2 separate regions of the Homo sapiens genome follow, and region 2 is linked to region 1. The links come from fine-mapping of genetic effects on gene expression. A gene starts in region 1. The other region holds a variant in brackets. All regions are shown on one strand. Distances are from middle to middle.

Region 1 (5,369 bases):
TGAGACGGAGTCTCGCTCTGTCGCCCAGGCCGGACTGCGGACTGCAGTGGCGCAATCTCGGCTCACTGCAAACTCCGCTTCCCGGGTTCACGCCATTCTCCTGCCTCAGCCTCCCGAGTAGCTGGGACTACAGGCGCCCGCCACCGCGCCCGGCTAATTTTTTGTATTTTTAGTAGAGACGGGGTTTCACCTTGTTAGCCAGGATGGTCTCGATCTCCTGACCTCATGATCCACCCGCCTCGGCCTCCCAAAGTGCTGGGATTATAGGCGTGAGCCACCGCGCCCGGCCCTAATTTTTGTATTTTTAGTAGAGACAGGGTTTCTCCACGTTGGCCAGGATGGGCTGAAACTCCAGACCTCAGGTGATCCACCCACCTCAGCCTTGCAAAGTGCTGGAATTACAGGCATGAGCCACCGCGCCCGGCCTGCATTTTAAGAGGTATTCAACACATGTGAAAATGTGAGAAAAATACAGAAAACGACTACAGCCACTTAAAAAAAAAGTCAGAATATAGGAAAATAGTCCTCTTTAAGTAAGATCAGGGTCAGATATTAAAAGACTGCAAAGTCAAAAATCTCTATAAGCTTGGAGTGGAATGCAAGGGAGGCGGAAGCAGTCTTTCTCAGGATCTTCAAGAAAGTTGTCAAACACCTGTCCTGTCCTTCCTTTCTTTCTCAGGACAGCCTGTTTCCTGTTGTGGAGGGGAGGTGTTAAGGCAATTGGCATGTGATTTTAAAGTTACCAGGGAACCAAGCACCCTTACAGACTTTCCCAAACATCAGTGTATCGGGGAACTTGCCCCGATAGTCACATAGGTTCTTTTCTATTTTCCTAAGCGTCGACTGGCTTGACAGAGTACAAAAGAGAGAAATTTTAAAGCTGGGCGTCCGGGGGAGACATCACACGTTGGTAGGATCCGTGATGCCCCACAAGCCACAAAAACCAGCAAGTTTTTATTAGGGAGTTTCAAAAGGGGAGGGAGTATACGAATAGGTGTGGGTGACAGACATCAAGTACTTAACAGGGTAATAGAATATCACAAGGCAAGTGGAGGCAGGGTGAGATCACAAGACCACAGGACCAGAGCGAAATTAAAATTGCTAATGAAGTTTTGGGCACCATTGTCATTGATAACATCTTATCAGGAGACAGGGTTTTCAGATCAACCGGTCTGACCAAAATTTATTAGGTGGGAATTTCCTTTTCCTAATAAGCCTGGGATCGCTATGGGAGACTGGAGTTTATTTCACCCCTGCAGTCTCAACCATAAGAGACAGGTACGCCCCAGGGGGGCCAGTTCAGAGACCTACCCCTAGGTGCGCATTCTCTTTCTCAGGGATATCCCATGCTGAGAAAAAGAATTCAGCGATATTTCTCCCATTTGCTTTTGAAGGAAGAGAAATATGGCTCTGTTCTGCCCGGCTCACCGGCGGTCAGAGTTTAAGGTTCTCTCTTGTTCCCTGAACAATTGCTGTTATCCTGTTCTTTTTTCAGGGTGCCCACATTTCATATTGCTCAAACACACATGCTGTACAATTTTTGTAGTTAACACAATTATTACAGGGTCCTGGAACGATATACATCCTCAACTGACAGGATTAAGAGATTAAAGACAAGACAGGCATAGGAAATCAGAAGAGTATTGACTGGGGAAGTGATAAGTGTCCATGAAATCTCTACAATTTATGTTTAGAGATTGCAGTAAAGACAGGCATAAGAAATTACAAAAGTATTAATTTGGGGAACTAATAAATGTCCATAAAATCTTCACAATCCACGTTCTTCTGCCATGGTTTCAGCCGGTCTCTCTGTTTGGGGTCCCTGATTTCCCGCAACATCAGTGGAAAATGGAAGTCACAAATAACTTTGTGTGTGTGTGTGAGTGAGACGGAGTCTCGCACTGTCGCCTGGGCTGGAGTGTAGTGGCGTGGTCTCGGCTCACTGCAACCTCCGCCTCCCGGGTTCAAGCGATTCTCCTGCCTCAGCCTCCCGAGCAGCTGGGATTATAGGGGCCTTCCACCACGCCCAGCTAATTTTTTGTATTTTTAGTAGAGGCGGGGTTTCACTACGTTGGCCAGGCTGGTCTCGAACTCCTGACCTCGCGATTCGCCCGCCTTGGCCTCCTAAAATTCTGGGATTACAGGCGTGAGCCACCGCGCCCGGCGAAATTTTTTTTAATTCTTAAAAATCTATTGCTTAATCCCCAGCGCCTAGAACAGATCATGCGCATAGGAGGTGCTCAATGAATCTTTCTTGAATGAGTAACCGAACTCTGCACCCGAGGAGCCCTGAACGCTCTATACGTTCGAATCCTGGAAGCTGCCGAAGGGGAAGGGCGCAGCCCCGCAGCCAGCTGAGCGTCCCTCGGCAGGTTAACACTGTCTGCGTAATGTTTCCCCAGTCCCCCCACCAAACTATTGAAGTCTGCCGCGCTGGGAGCGGACTGCACGAGACACGGCTTGTGGCAGCGCCTACATCAGCGGCGCCTGGGACACAGCCGGGCCCCCCTGACCCCGCGCGCCAAGGAGGGCTGAGGAAGGGATCGCGGGGCGAGGAGCGGCAGCTACACAAGGGACACTCTGCCAGCGGGGCAAGCCGAGGGCCCAGCGTCCTTGACGGGGGCGTGACAAGGGTCGGCGTGAGGTTTGGAGAGGGCAGAGCAGAGGAGCCCTCCAGGGATCGGATCCAATGCCCCAAGCCCCACTCACCTTCACCGACCCTGGCTGCCCACGGTCCTCCGCAGCAAGTAACGGAAGTGGGTCACGGGAAGATCTTTCCTCAGCCAACCCCAAAGCCAAGGGGGTGGGCCTTGCTTCGCAGATCAGCCAATAGAGATGAGGGCTGGTTCCGGAAGTATCTTCCCGGGGGCGGGCACAGCGCCTCCCCCGCGCGGGTCCCCGGGCGCTGGTTGGGGGCGCTCCCGTCCCTCTCCCCTCTGCCCCACCCCCGCCGATGGGCCGGCCCGGCTCTCCCTGCCGAGAAATGGGCCGGCCCGGCTGCGCGCGGGCAGCAGCGGTGGCGGCGGCGGTCCAAGATGGCGGAACTGCAGCTGGACCCGGCGATGGCGGGGCTGGGAGGGGGCGGCGGGAGTGGGGTGGGCGACGGGGGTGGCCCAGTCCGCGGGCCCCCCAGCCCACGCCCGGCTGGCCCCACGCCCCGCGGGCACGGCCGCCCGGCTGCCGCCGTCGCGCAGCCGCTGGAGCCGGGTCCCGGACCACCCGAGCGGGCAGGGGGCGGCGGCGCGGCCCGCTGGGTCAGGCTGAACGTGGGAGGCACCTACTTCGTGACCACCAGACAGACCTTAGGCCGGGAGCCCAAGTCATTTCTCTGCCGCCTCTGCTGCCAGGAGGACCCGGAGCTGGACTCAGACAAGGTGTGCCCCGCCCTCGGGCGCGCCCCCGGGCCTTCGAACCCCCTGGTTTCTCGTAGATCGGTCCCCAGAGTCCTGAGACACGCTCCTCACAGGCAGCCCCCTCAGGCCGGGACCCCATCCTCCCCCTCCCTCCCACACTACTCGCAGGGGCCTCAGAGGGACCTCCCACTCCCCTTCTTCCATGCTGAGGCATACTCTGGCTTTCTCCCCGACCCCGCCCTTCGTTCTCTGAGACTCCTTCCCACACTGCGCCCACCTGCACCCACGAGAACGCACTCCACACCCCTTCTCCATATTCTCTGCCCCTGACATCCCACTGAGATCTGCATGAGTTTTCCCTGGCTCCTCTTCAGTCCCCCCACTGCCGGTGCCAGATGCATCCAGAACTGGGTCAGGGTTAGCTCAGGCATCCTTGTAGCTTTCTCAGACTCCCTCTCGGACCCCTCTGCCAAGTTGGGCTTCCACAGCTGCAGGAAGCGCTCCTTGTGATATCACACTGCTTTTCTATAGTCCTGGTCGCAGAACTTTTATCTGTTAACAGTCACTGGTTTAGGTCCATATTTAGATCAAATGCGTTTTTTGGAAAGAGGTTACTGTTTGCCGCTGCAAATCTAGGCTAAGACAGAAGGAAAATGAAAATTTTCCCGGGAAAATTTTGGGCAGGATGCATGGCTGCTAACCAAAGGGTTGAGAGGTGACAAGACACTTAAACCATTTCCAGTTTGAACTGTGTCAATTTCTTTTTAACTTTACGTATTCACCTTTAAGTTCTCAACTTAAAGGCACTGACCATAACTCACACCATCTTATATCCCATATAGCACTCAGCTGGTGACCTCAAAACAGAGCTGGAGTTGCGTAAACATTTGTTGTTTTCGTTTATTCCTCTTCTCTAAGAAATCTCAGATTGATGGAAACCTATCCTGCCCTAACTTTAAAGAGATTTCAAAACCCTTGCTTATAAAGGAATTATTTTTATCTACTCTATATCCTCCTTGTGGTAATAGAAGCCAGTTTCTTCTTGTTCCTTTTACTGTAAAGATGAGTAGGATTAAAGCTGCTCAGAGCCAAGTCCTGGCAGTACCGAGCTTCCTCTGGGCACAGAGCTGGGGTGTGTGAGATTACAGCTGGCAGTGCAAACTCCCACTGATGTTGGCCTTGAGCTCAGGAGCATTGCCAACTACACAGAGGTTTTCTTGGAATTAGGAATGCAGTTCAGAGGCAGTGGAAAAGTCAGAATGTCCATCTCAAGCAAAGATTTCAGTTACACAGCTACGGCATTTTCTCCCTTTCTTAATAACAAACACGCTACAGAAGAATGTTTGTCACTGTAATTATTGTCCAGGCAAAGATTGCAAATTCCAGCCAGTAAGTAAACGCCTAAATGAGTATGACTGTCTGTAACACCCTACCTAAGATGATCTTAATGTACAAGATACATAAAGCTATAGCTTTCTTACCAATAGTTTGTGACAAATGTGTAACAAAATTTGCCATCACTAAAGTCTTTTTTAGCTGATGGAATGAATTGTTGTCTTGGGGCGCTGACAAAGATGGTGAAATCCTGCCCTGCCTTTGTTTAAAATACTCCTCAAAGGTCCACAATGATACCCTTGTGTTTGGTTGGCAGGATGAGACAGGAGCCTATCTGATTGACAGGGACCCCACCTACTTTGGTCCTATCCTCAACTACCTCCGCCACGGGAAACTCATCATCACTAAGGAGTTGGCAGAAGAAGGTAAGCGCACTGTTTGCATTGGGGATTTTCAAAATGCAAGTAGAATCTTTAAAGTTGTTTTACAGATTTCAATTTTGTTTGACATTTTCATCAGGCGCATGTGCAGGTATAGTTTCAGGTTTATGAAACAGAGCAGAAACTACCAGTCTTGTCTGAGGGAGTCATGATTAAGGAAGCCTCCTTAGGCTTTGTTCAGCTTCCTGGGTGAGAAGGAAGATAGGTAGCTCCGCTTTGCAGATAACTTCAGGAGTTCTTT
Region 2 (5,359 bases), 24 kb before region 1:
GTGCTTAGTTACTGGAAGTCTATTTTTGCCCAAAAGTGCCTCACTGTCTTTGCGGGCTTGTTCATAGCCAACTTGGACATAGGCTACAATGTACATGGTTAGGTGTCTGGCCTCCCTTTATTTCAGAATGGTCACTGGTCACCCAGGGGTTGATCCTTCCTGGAAGTCTCAGGCACCCATGCTCCCTTCTCCCTTTCCTCCACAGTGAATTCCAAGGCAGAAGTCAGGTTCCATTTGGCAACTGCCGAGTGGATCGCGGAGCCCGTGCGGCAGAAGATAGCCATCACGGTAACCACCATCCCTTTCTTTCCCTAGAAATCCCTCAGTGGCTTTTAAACCTTTACTCTGTAGGACTCCAGTTTTTCATTTGTTCTCTGCAGCATAAAAACAAGATCAACAGGTTAGGAGAGTTGATCCTCACCTCTGAGAGCAGCCGCTATCAGTTCCGGAATCTGGCAGATTGCCTGCAGAAAATTCGAGACATGATCACTGAGGCCAGCCAGACACCGAAGGAGCCAACAAAAGAAGATGTTAAACTTCATAGAATCAGGTACCAGGAAATGCCCTAAGATGCTATAAACTGATTTGTGTGGACAAGAGTCTACACAGGTAAGGAAGGGGCAGGGGAGAGTCCAAGGCCGGCCTTGGGAGAAACTCTAGGAAGAGGAGAGGATGCTGACCTGGGACCGAGGCCTGCGGGCTAGTGCCTGCTGGTGTAACTGCTCGGCTTCCCGTTGAGCTCCCAACTCCTCTCACCACTTTGAAAAGCACTGATTGGGCATCTGGGGCTAATTGCAGTCTTTTTGTTTTCAGGATAGAAAACATGAATCGGGAAAGGCTGAGACAAAAGAGAATTCATTCTGCTGTAAAGACAAGCAGGAGGGTCGACATGGACTGAAATCACCCTCTGCAGCTGGGAGGGCTCTTCTGGGCGTCCGGGCAGCTGCAGCTGAGAGGACTTTCACACCATAAGGAGATTTCTGTTTTTCTTTTTGGCTGTTAATGCTTGTCTATAACATTGGAGCCATCACAAGAATGTTCATTTGGAATGAAGGCTGCAGGCACTGGTTGCAGACGTCTTTATAGGCAGTCACCATGTTGTCAAACCTTAATAATGCACCTCATGTATTAGTCACAATAAAAATCAGAACTCATTAGGCTTCCCTTCTCATTCAGAATGCTTCAGAAAACAATTCCTACCTTTTCTCTCAGTTAAATCAGCCGCACAGTTATCGACACAGCACTGGGGAACAGGAAAGGGTTCTGGTGTCTGCTGTGAAAGAACACACAGGCCAGGCGTGGTGGCTCACGCCTGTAATCCAAACACTTTGGAAGCCAAGGCAGGAGGATCACACGAGGTCAGGAGGTCAAAACCAGCCTGAGCAACATAGCAAGATCTCATCTCTACAAGAACTACAAAAATTAGCCAGGTGTGGTGATACATGTCCATAGTCCCAGCAACTTGGGAGGCTGAGGCAGGAGGATCACTTGAGCCCCCCAGGAGTTCAAGGTTGCAGTGAACCATAATTGCACCACTGCAGCCTGAGTGACAGAGCAAGACCGTGTCTCAAAAAAAAAAAAAAACCACCGGGCGTGGTGGCTCACACCTGTAATCCCAGCACTTTGGGAGGCTGAGGTGACCAGCCTGGCCAACGTGGTGAAACCCTATCTCTACTAAAATAGGTGGTGGGCACCTGTAATCCCAGCTACTCGGGCCGAGGCAGGAGAATTGCTTGAACCCAGGAGGGTGACGTTGCAGTAAGCCAAAATCACACCACTGCACTCCAGCCTGGGCAACAGAGCCAGACTCCGTCTCAAAAACAAAACAAAAAGAAACTACACACACAACCAGGTAGGAGGGCTGAGACAGGTAAGTGGGCATTTGAGCCGGGCTATGGAAAAGGCATGGGACTTTCATCAGTAGACGGGAGGCGGACATGCCATTTGAAGGGAACAATGAACACAAGAGACAAAAGAGGCTGAGGTGGAGGGGGTGACAAAGAAGGCAAAGGCACTGAATGGTGGATTCGTGCAGGGTGATCCACCATTGCAGCGGGAGGTGAACCCAGAGAGAGACCGGCTTGATGTGGAGAGCCTTGAATTCAAGTTAAGGAGTTTAGGTTCTTTTATTTTTGAGATGGAGTCTCACTCTGCCATCCAGGCTGGAGTGCAATAGCGTGATCTTGGCTCACTGCAACCTCCTTCGCCCAGGTTAAAGCGATTCTCCTGCCTCAGCTTCCCCAGTAGCTGGGGTTACAGGTGCATGCCACCATGCACAGCTAATTTTTGTATTTTTGTAGAGATGGGGTTTCACCATGTTGGCTGGGCTGCTCTTGAACTCCTGACCTCAGGTGATCCGCCCACTTCGGCCTCCCAAAGTGCTGGTATCACAGGCGTGAGCCACTGCACCCGGCAAAGGTTTTAAGAGATGTGGGTAACAGAAAGCTGTTGGGAGAAAAGCTGAGCGTTGGGAGAAAAGCTGAGTGTTGGGAGAGAAGCTGAGGCAGGGCTTGCATGTCTGCTAGACTTGCTGGCTCCTTGCTTCTAGCACTCCCATTCTCTCAAGCAGCCGTATGTTTCTCCTTCACTTGATACACTTTCTTTTCAACCCCCACATCCTCACCACCTGTTTCTTTGAGCACCAATAAATACCGTGGGCTCCCAGAGCTGGGGGTCTTCACAGCCTCAACACTGGCGATGGCTTCCTGGTGCTACTTTCTCTCTCAAACTGTCTTTTTCTAATTCCTTTGACTCCGC[C/T]GGACTTTGTTGCCCCCATGACCTGGTGTTGGGTCTGATCACCTCAACATTCCTGGCTGCCCAACGTGGGGTGACAAAGACCCTGGTGAAGGAACGCTAGAGCGTGTGAAAGCGGAGAACACATCGTCAAAGGACACCCAAAGGCGTCTAAAAGAAGCTCGGCAGGAAAGCTGAGCGCTCGGAAGAACCAGGGTAACAATGGGATAAAGTGAAAGACATTTTGCTTATTTAAATTTATTTTATTATTTTTTTTTTTTTGAGAGGAGTCTTGCTCTGTCGCCCAGGCTGGAGTGCAGCGGCGCGATCTCGGCTCACTGCAAGCTCTGCCTCCTGGGTTCAGGCCATTCTCCTGCCTCAGCCTCCCGAGTAGCTGGGACTACAGGCACCCGCCACCGCGCCCGGCTAATTTTTTGTATTTTTTTTTTTTAGTAGAGACGAGGTTTCACCGTGTTAGCCAGGACGGTCTCGATCTCCTGACCTCGTGATCCGCCCGCCTCGGCCTCCCAAAGTGCTGGGATTACAGGTGTGAGCCACCGCGCCCGGCCTTATTTAAATTTCTTAAGGCATTTATTACGAAGAGGGGGAGTGAAAGTACTCAGAATTTGTTGGCATTTATTATGAAGAGGGGGAGTGAAAGTTAGTACTCAGAATTTGTTATCACTCTTTAGTACAGTAAAGCAGTTTTGCCCATGGCTTCCGGAACAAGCGACTATGGAGTTGGATGAATGGGAGAGAATCGGCAGAGATTTTTAAAAGGCGTATAAAGAGGGAGCAGATATTCCAGTTTCTATTTGGTCATGTGGGCGCTAATAAAGGCAGCTCTTGAGCCATTTCAAACAGATGATGAGGCAGATTGAGATGAGGAAGAGGAGGATGAGTGTAAAAAACTAACTTCAGATTCTGAGTGTGAGGAACAGCTACCGGAGGAGATTAAAGAAAGGAAAACTAAAAAAAGTATGTTTTACTAGCCCGTCGGCGCCCCCTGCTAAATTAAGTGAATGGCCACCTCCTCTCTCTCCTCTTAATGGGTGAGAAGATGAATTAGCTGAAAAACTTACTACTCCTATAGTTGCAATATTAAAACCTGGAGCAATTGGTGATGCTATAGAAAATTCTATTCATAAAGCTAGAGCCGAGGGAGACCTTGAAGCATGGCAATTTCCTGTTACTATCATCCAGCAGAGAAGACAGAATACAGCTAATTGGCCACTTTTCCTTTTAAGTTACTAAAGGAATTTAAGCAAGCCATTAGTCAATACGGACCGAACTCTCCTTTTGTGCAAACTCTATTAAAAAATATGGCTCTTGATAATAGATTAATACCATGTGGCTGGGATACTTTGACAAAATCTGTTCTCACCCTATCTCAGTATTTGCAGTTTAAAACCTGGTGGGCTGATGAAGCTCAAACTCAGGCAGGGGAAAACATACAAGCACAGCCACCTGTGCCTGTTTCCTTTGAACAGTTAATGGGAGTTGGCCCTAACTGGGGTTGATTAGAGAAATCAAGCAGTAATGGAGGATGCTGCCATTGTTCAGCTGCGCTTTGTGTGCTTATGGGCATGGGAAAGGATAAATGTTACAGGCGAAAAACATCCTTCTGTCAGTTCTATCCGTCAAGGACCTAAAGAACCATATATTGATTTTATTGCTCAGCTCCAAGAGGCTGTGTATAAAGCCATTACTAATAAAACGGCTCAGGATGTTGTAATACAGCTTCCTGCATACGAAAATGCTAGTGCAGTGTCAAACTGCTATTAGACCCCTGAGAGGGACGGCTCATTTAGCTAAATATATTAAGGATTGCGATGGCATTGGAGGTAACTTACATAAGGCAACTCTTTTAGCTCAGGCTATGGCTGGATTAAGAGTAGGAAAGAATATACCCCATTTCTCAGGCCCTTGCTTTAATTGTGGTCAATTTGGACACCCAAGAAAGGAATGTAGAAAAGGAAATCAAAAGGCAAACATTACTACCATCAGTCAACAGAAAAGTCCCGGTATATGTCTCCAGTGTAAGAAAAGCAAACACTGGGCAAGTCAGTGTCATTCTAAATTTAACAAGGATGGACAACCTCTTTCAGGAAACGGGAAGAGAGGCCTGCCTCGAGCCCCTCAACAAACCAAGGCACAGCCATGCCCTTACAAACGTGCAACAATTGTCCCCCACTTCAGCAGGCAGTGCTGCCATAGACCTCTACAGCACAATTACCATCTCCTTAGGAGAGGTGAAGCCGACTGGGCTTCTGGGTCGGGTGGGGACTTGGGTAACTTTTCTGTCTACCTAAGGATTGTAAACACATCAATCAGCACTCTGTCTAGCTAAAGGTTTGTAAACGCACCAATCAGCACTGTGTAAAAACGGACCAATCACCTCTCTGTAAAATGGACCAATCAGCAGGATGTGGGTGGGGCCAAGTAAGGGAATAAAAGCTGGCCACCCAAGCCGCAGTGGCAATCCGCTGGGGTGCTGTTTCATGCTGTGGAAGCTTTGTTCTTTTGCTCTTCACAATAAATTTTGCTGCTGCTTCCTCTGGGTCTGCACTACCTTTATGAGCTGTAACACTCACCGTGAGGGTCTGTGGCTTCATTCCTGAAGTCA

Alleles and levels. Alleles are on the strand shown, and positions count from the first base shown. SD is a standard deviation of normalised expression in the study named.
For the expression in pancreas of the gene that starts at base 2,754 in region 1, T is the low allele of the variant in region 2 and C is the other (small effect, 0.26 SD a copy in GTEx).

What was found. PIP is the estimated chance that this variant, and not a neighbour inherited with it, causes the effect.
Region 2: its variant is the best candidate, but not a certain one, in a credible set for the expression of ATP5PD in pancreas (GTEx, PIP 0.79).

What each region holds. Positions count from the first base shown.
Region 1 is chr17:75,044,216-75,049,584 of GRCh38, forward strand. It overlaps ATP5PD (ATP synthase peripheral stalk subunit d), which reads right to left and starts at 2,754. Exons shown (of 6, transcript NM_006356.3): 1 at 2,710-2,754. It overlaps KCTD2 (potassium channel tetramerization domain containing 2), which reads left to right and starts at 3,010. Exons shown (of 6, transcript NM_015353.3): 1 at 3,010-3,374; 2 at 5,005-5,113. The coding sequence starts at 3,036. RefSeq lists enhancers at 2,221-2,290, 2,229-2,814, 2,699-2,993 and a silencer at 2,691-3,120.
Region 2 is chr17:75,020,108-75,025,466 of GRCh38, forward strand. MRPL58 (mitochondrial ribosomal protein L58) reads left to right here. Exons shown (of 6, transcript NM_001545.3): 4 at 206-288; 5 at 381-550; 6 at 814-1,154. The coding sequence ends at 898. Among named protein-coding and RNA genes, the nearest start is that of MRPL58, 10 kb to the left of the region's middle. RefSeq lists an enhancer at 1-920 and a silencer at 5,084-5,241. The variant C/T (reference allele first, on the strand shown) is at 2,758.